Linked DNA regions of Homo sapiens. The protein of the gene in region 2 purifies or fractionates together with the protein of the main gene of each other region. This does not show direct contact. Each region holds a gene or a part of one and is shown on either strand. Other genes may lie near its edges.

What was found. Proteins that work in one complex are often made in the same cells at the same time.
Region 1: the proteins of SBF1 (region 2) and SUPT16H purify together in Homo sapiens (affinity purification with mass spectrometry; 2 studies listed by BioGRID and IntAct, with this or other methods). This does not show direct contact.

What each region holds. Positions count from the first base shown.
Region 1 is NC_000014.9:21,363,315-21,367,060, forward strand, and holds part of SUPT16H (FACT complex subunit SPT16), read right to left. Parts: intron 3,216-3,746; coding exon 3,125-3,215; intron 1,830-3,124; coding exon 1,756-1,829; intron 1,626-1,755; coding exon 1,513-1,625; intron 190-1,512; coding exon 124-189; intron 15-123; coding exon 1-14. UniProt on the Homo sapiens protein: Component of the FACT complex, a general chromatin factor that acts to reorganize nucleosomes. The FACT complex is involved in multiple processes that require DNA as a template such as mRNA elongation, DNA replication and DNA repair.
Region 2 is NC_000022.11:50,454,436-50,458,181, forward strand, and holds part of SBF1 (myotubularin-related protein 5), read right to left. Parts: intron 2,677-3,746; coding exon 2,599-2,676; intron 2,239-2,598; coding exon 2,057-2,238; intron 1,961-2,056; coding exon 1,781-1,960; intron 1,148-1,780; coding exon 1,046-1,147; intron 975-1,045; coding exon 789-974; intron 708-788; coding exon 581-707; intron 510-580; coding exon 379-509; intron 308-378; coding exon 77-307; intron 1-76. UniProt on the Homo sapiens protein: Acts as an adapter for the phosphatase MTMR2 to regulate MTMR2 catalytic activity and subcellular location. Promotes the exchange of GDP to GTP, converting inactive GDP-bound Rab proteins into their active GTP-bound form.

The sequences.
Region 1 (3,746 bases), on a different chromosome or scaffold from region 2:
TCCTCATCTTCATTCTATGGAAAAAGTCATAATCAAAAAATGAAATTTTAATTATTTTAGCCAATATTATTTAACTTCTTTATATCCTAAACTTCCTATACTACTTATCTATCTTCTTCCTACCTTTAGGAAAATCCCCACATTCTTCACTTTCTTCTTCACAGAAGTGAGAACAGTAGCTGGGCCATCCTAGAATTAAAAGGAGAATGAAGACACATTATTTAAAAGAGGCAATTTCATTTTCTAACCTAGTAAACGGCTGGGCAATGCTTTGAATCTTTTGGACACTAAAATGTTTGACAATGAATAAATATAGTTTTTATCCTTCTAACCTCTAACCTCTCGTCAGGAGCTACAATTTTTTTTCTTTTTCTTTTTTTTGAGACAGAGTTTCACTCTTGTCAACGAGGCTGGAGTGCAATGGCGTGACCTCAGCTCACTGCAACCTCCGCCTCCCGGATTCAAGTGATTCTCCTGCCTCAGCCTCCCGAGTAGCTGGAATTACAGACGCGCACCACCACACCTGGCTAATTTTTGTATTTTTAGTAGGGCCGGGGATTCACCATGTTGGTCAGGCTGGTCTCAAACTCCTGACCTCAGGTGATCCACCTGCCTTGGCCTCCGAAAGTGCTAGGATTACACGCGTGAGCCACTGCGCCCAGCCAAGAGCTACAATTTGGGAGGCAACATTGGGTAATCACTAATACAGGTTTGATTTGAAGCCTGGCTCAGTTGCTTTCTACCTCAGTGACATTTGGCAAGTTACTTAAACTTGTCTGTGCCTTCAATTTATCTGTAAATGGAGGTAATAAGAGTATCTACTTCACAAGGTACTATTTCAATGAATTAATGTAAACTGCTTAGCTTATGATAAAAACACTGAACTATCTGTGCTCACTATTATTAAAAATCAGTTCGCTGAGGGAAAGAAGCCAGTCACAAAAGACCACATAGGGTATGACTGAATTTACATCAACTGCTCAGATATTTAGCAAATCCTTAGAGAGAACGCAGTTTAGTCATTGCCTAGGCCTGAAGAACCAGTGGGGGAAGGGAAGGGGGATGGGGAGTGACTGCTAATAGGTTCAGGGTTCTTTCCTGAGGTGATGAAAATATTTTCAAATTAGATTGTAGTGATGGTTACACAAATGTGAAAATACTAAAAATCACTAAATTGTACATATCAGGTGGGTGAATTGTATAGTATGTGAATTGTAGCTCAATAAAGCTGTTATTAAAAAGAAAAAAGAATAACCGGTTTCATTATTAGTATTAGTTCCTGATATTATCATTATCAAGGTTCAAGCCACAATATGACAATATGATTTAAAGGTTTATATCATTCCCTATACCTGGGCTACAGTCTCTATTCCTAGCTGCATTAGGTTAGGCTGTCACACGGATTCTTCCCCTTAGCTAGCATTTAACAAAGCAAGAAAAAAACCACAGGGTCCACAAACGTGCCTCAGAAGTTAGTTCATGAAGACTCCAAAGTTTAGACACAATACACACCTCATCCACAAGCACTGTGTCACCAATGAACAGGGCATAGGTTTTCTCTTCTGGCTTTTTCCCCTCCTTGTTAGTCAGGTCTGAGAATCCTAAATTGATGCTGAAAACCATTCCTAAAACAGCAAAACAAGGATCAGTCTGTGGCTGTGACAATGTGGAGAGGTGTGAGACATATGCCTAAAAGAAAATAAAGCTAAAGGAAGTAACTCACAAAAGCATTTTCCTATTGTATGTGAAACTTACCTTTCTTCAGTTTGTATTGATTTTTGCTATTGATTACTAGGGAGCCTTCACGGAATTCAATTCCCATCCCAAACCTGAAAAGAAACAGATAAACATCAGCAAAAGGCTAAAGATCTCTAACATGGATCAAGCATAACATATTCATTTCAACTTTCACAATAAGACAGGCAAACATGTTTGAAATGATTTACCCCTGCTGACCGCTCAGTTAGAAAAGAGGATTCAAAGACAGTCTTTGGCCTCTAAACATGCTGTATAATCCCATGGCGAAAAATAATTTCCTAATTGATTATATCGAGCCTTTTTAATTTTAGCTTATTTGCCCACATTTAAACTTTAACCTTCTACCATAAAATCAAGTCAGTAGTACTCCTAGAAACAACATAGAGATTATTAAGGGGTACATTACTAAGACAGTAATTACTAGATTAAAAGGGGCAATTTTTAGTGGAACACTGGTAAACCAGATTCGTAAGACTTGTTATATAGGTATATATTTCCATGAGAGAAGTCTAGAAACTATATACCATAGACTAGTTTTCATCTAAAGAGAATGCCTACATAAAGCTTTGTTTCCCAAAATGTCCTTTGTTCCATTACACGTTATTAGGTATTTCTAGGTGTTCAGTGATAAAATACATTTGAGAAATGTATAAAATACATTTGAGAAATACACTGGATTGAATAAACAAACCAAAACCAAAACCAAAACCAAAACCAAAACAAAAAAAAACCCCCAAAACAAACAAACGGCCAGGCACAGTGGCTCACATCTGTAATCCCAGCACTTTGGGAGATCAAGGTGGGAGGACTGCTTGAGCCCACGAGGTCAAGACCAGCCTGGGCAACATAGCGAGACCCTGTTTCTACAAAAAATAAAAAAATGAGCTGGGTGTGGTGGCACGTGCCTTGGTCCCAGTTATTGGGGGAGCTGAGATGGGAGGATTGCTGGAGCCCAGAAGGTCTAGACTGCAGTGAGGCACGACTGCACCACTGCACTCCAGCCTGGACAGAGTGAGACCCTGTCTCTAAATAAAATATTAGGACATCTCAGAGTACTTAAGTTGCAAATGTGCACGGAGAGAGGAGATATAGTATGTATTGATAATATTTCCTAACATCTGTAATTATATCCTGGAAAACCTATGGGCTGGAACACCACACTGGTCTAGAAAAATCTCTCTTATACACTTGGGAGAACTTAAATCTGTCTCACCTTCTCTGATAACATCATGTGCCTGGCACATAGTATAGTTTGCTAGTCCATAAATGTTGGCTGAATCAATCAATTAGCCTAAAGAAATAAGACTGACCACTGACAGTCTAACTGAAAACTGACTCAAGAATGACAATAGACATCATGGCATACCCTAGGTTTTTGGTAATTTTGTTCAGCAGTTCTGGCTTCTGCTTTTTAACCACGTCCATGACAGCGTTATACACGTCACATATCTTCACACCTAATAACAAGACACAAAGGAGATATTAAAGTATCTTTTAGGAAAAAAACTCAGTAACATTTTAAAATCAAAATTTATGTCCCCTAAAGCAGTGTTTCTCAAAGTGTGAACTAAACAGTCCACTCACTTTTTTTTTTTGAGACAAGGTCTCACTCTGTCACTCAGGCTGGAGTGCAGTAGCATGATTACGGATCACTGCAGCCCTGACCTCCCAGACTCAATGATCCTCCCACCTCAGCCTCCCAAGTAACTGGGACTATAGGCACACACCACTATGCCCAGCTAATTTTTTATTTTTTGTAGAGACATGGTCTGCCATGTTGCCCAGGCTGGTCTCAAACTGGACTCAAGCAATCCTCCCACCTTGGCTTCCCAAAGTGCAGGAATTATAGGTGTAAATCACTCCACCTGGCCCCATTCTTTTTTTTTTGGATGGAGTCTCACTCTGTTGCCCAGGCTGGAGTGCAGTGGCGTGATCCTACTTCACTGCAAGCTCCACCTCCCGGATTCACGCCTTTCTCCTGCGTCAGC
Region 2 (3,746 bases):
CACACACGCACGACCCTGGTGTCTGAGCGAGAGGAGGGGGGTGCCAGGCCAGACCCTGCTCTGGGATCACACGCACCTCCAGCAGGCGTGAGATGGCGTCAGGCTGGGCCCGCGGGCAGCTGTCGTAACAGGGCCACACCACGCGGCGCCTGCTCTGGGGAGCGCCTCCATCAGACCGTTCTTCCTCTGGGGGTTCAGGGGGCCCCTGGGCCAGTTCCCAGTCATAGGGAGGGCCCTCGGCCAGCGTCTCCTCAGTGTAGAAGTCCCACACCTTCAGGTTGGACACGTTGCTGTAGGGCCGCAGGACCTGAGGGTGGGCCTGTGGTTGAGGACCTGGGTCGGGCAGGAGCCGCCTACCCGACCCAGGCCCCAGCTTACCTCTGCGTCCTCGGGCGCATACATGTAATTGTGGAACACAGGCGTCCTCTTGCTCAGCCGGTCCACATACTCCCACACAGACCTGCACGGCACCTGGCCCCTGCGTTCCCCCTTCTCCTCATACAGCAGCCCTGCACAGAAGCAGCACTGAGCCTGGGCCCCTCCTGACCCGTGGCTGCCCCAGCCCCGACTCCCCACATACCCAGCTCAATGCGCTCATAGTCAGAGTCGAGCAGGAAGGTCCGGAAACGGCGGGACACATGGTGGTAGCCGAGGAACTTGAGGTAGAACTGGCTGAACTCAAACTCCATGGGGAACTGCAGGTGGACCTGCACGCCATGTGGGTCAGGGGCCAGGGCTCAGCGGTCAGGGTGCACAGTCCCGGCCCACCCACACAGCGGCCTGCCCACCTGGTGTACGCAGTCCAGGAACTGCAGGAAGACGGGTGTGAAGCCGCTGCTCTGCCCGGCCAGGGTGTGAGCTCCACGGTGGCTGAAGCGATGGCCGAAGGACAGCCACTCCTTCTCCACCAGCAGGCGAAAGCCCTCCAGCGTGCGGTAGAAGGGGTCTGAGAGCAGCTGCACCAAGGATACCACCTGCCAGCACCGCCAGGAGGTCAGCGAGGAGCCCGGGAGCCTGGCCCACCCCAGCCCCACGCGCCACACACCTGGGTGGTGATGTCCCAGCCATCCTCCAGGCCCACCAGCACGGAGGAGCCTGAATCCAGGAGCTCCACCACCAGCACAGACACCTGCAGCAGCTTGTGGATCTGCAGGGACAGGCGGCCTCAGCACCTCGGGGACCCACCGCCCTCCCGCCTGGCCACTCACCAGGCCAGAGACCCGCATGTCCACAGGCAGCGGGGAGGCAGGCCCTGTCCACAGCCCCCCAAGCCCTGTATGCGGGCAGAGCACTGGACAAACACAGCTCGCTCTGGGTGTGCCGACCACCGCCTCCAGCCTGCTGGTCACAGCCCACCCCCTTCCAAGCCCTCTAGGACTGAGGGACGTCCCTGTCCCTCAAGATGCCGGTGGCCCTACCTTCAAGCCCTCCAGTGTTTACCAAGCCAGCATCCTGTCAGTACCCACCCCCGAGAGAATGCAGCAGGGGCCCAGAACCATAAACTGCATCCCCCGTGTGGTCATCAGCCCACGTGGGCCCAGCAGGCTGCTCCGACATACCCATGCCCAAGCCCTGGCCACTCTCACTGTCAGCTGGCCCCAGCCAGGCCCAGCCTCCCAGCTGCCTTCTAGGCACCAGAGCCTGGGTGGGAAGTGGCTGTCACCTCCTCCTTCCAGCGCTCCACACTGTCAGACAAGCAAACCTAGACCCGTCCACTTGGCTCTACCCAAGGGGAGGGCCCAGCACCAAGGCGGGCAGAGGGACGGGGCAGTGCAGAGACCTGGATCAGCCACTCTGAGTCCTCCAGTGAGCGCAGGAAGGAGGCTGGGCTGGGCTCAGCAGCGGGGCAGCCTGGGACACATGCTTTCAGCAGCTTCTTGAAGCTAGCCTTCACCTGCCGTGCCTCGAATACCTCAATGGGCACCAGCTCCCACTGCTGCAGGGGGTCTGACCGCACACCCTGAAAAGAATCCGGACAAGTCCCGTGAGACACATGAGGCCCCAAGCCCCCTGCCGAGCCCCCACCCTCACCCCCCACCCCCCGCACCCCAGTCACCTTGAGCTGGGCTTTGTCCCCAAGGATATAGAGGGCTGCTCGCTGCGGACGCAGGAAGCCCGGGTCGGGAGGGCCCCCGTTGGCCTGGGGTGGGGCCAGCGCGTCTCTGCCAGCTAGCCGGGAGCCCACATCGGTGCCAAGGCCACTGCTGCGTCCACTGGTCCGGACACTGCCCCACTTACCTGTGAAGGAGATGCCAGGTAAGCACCCAAAGGGGGCCAGGGCACCACTTACCTGGGGCTGGCTGGGCCCGGCCTCCAGGGAGGGGGCTGAGCTCCCAGGGCAGGGGTGGTTGGCAGGACCCCAGCAGGGCCGTGCGAGAGGAGGGCTGGAACACACAGATTCTGAGACGTGGGGTGGCAGCCAGTGTTAGTTTCTAGGGCAGGACTCACGGGTCAGGGAGGTAAGGACTGGGGCTCGGGAGACGGGTCGTTAGTGTCAGGTGTGGAGGGAGACATTAGTGCCCGCAATAACTCAGTGCACACTAGAGGCCGCCAGCACCAAGTAAGGGGAGGCGGGCCTGCGCAGGCTCGGTACGGTACCTCGGGGTGCGGTCCGTCTGGAGGCCGAGGCCGCCATGGGGTTGGACAGCGTGGTGACCCTGGCTCTGGGGCTGGGAACTGAGGGCACAGCAGAGAGAAGGCTCAGGCCTAGCCCCAGGCCTGGGCGTGCCCAGCTTGGGGGTGCCTACAGGTCAGAGGGTTCCACCAAGCCCCCAGGGAGCCTGGAGACAGCAGGGGTCAGCCCCAAGTCCCTGATCGCAGGAAAGTGGGAAGAGCCATCCTGGTGTGGGCCTCTCTGCCAGGGCAGGGCAGGCCGCAGAGCACTCCGTGGCAGCAGAAGGGCTATGCGGTGGGGATCCCGGGCTCTCCTCTAACACTTCCTTTCTTCCCACTCAAACCAGCTTAGAGCAAGTCTGTCTCTGAGTCCCTCCCTCCACATCCTGGCCCTTTGTCCTCCACTCAGGGGGCCAGGGCTTGTGATGGGCACAGCTCAGAACGCTCCACACATGAGCATGTAGACGCCTCTGTCCAGGGCACAGCAACAGGAGGTGCCCAAGAGGTGTGGCCTGGAGAAGAGGCGACCTGGAGGCTTCCCGAAGAGGGGAGAGGGTGGGCTCAGAGCCTGAGCCCAGTCCAAAAGGACGGAGAGCAGCTCAGTCCAGGACACAGGCAGATCTGAGTCCCAGGCTGAGGTTTACGGTCCAGACGACGTGGCCTGAAGGCACAGGGAGGACTGGCAGCCCAAAGGGCTGGGAGATGCCTGGGGTCCACAGAGGGTCTCTGGGCGCCTGGCCCTGCCCAGGCTCACCTGCTTCTGCAAGGCCCGAGGGTGGGACTGAGAGAGGCAATGTCCCCTCGTCCACCAAGTGGTCACTACAGGCCAAGCACAATGCCAGCCCAACACGCCCTGTGTCCTCTGACGGCTGCCACACTGCAGGCGCCCAGCTCACAGTGAGGACGCAGCACCAGCCTGCTTTGGACGCCAACCAGGGCCCAGTGTATCCTTGTAAAAAGGTCAGAGCTGGCCAGGCGCAGTGGCTCACGCCTGTAATCCCAGCACTTTGGGAGGCCGAGGCGGGCGGATCACCAGGTCAGGAGATCGAGATCATCCTGGCTAACACGGTAAAACCCTGTCTCTACTAAAAATACAATACAAAAAAATCAGCCGGGCGCGGTGGCGGGCACCT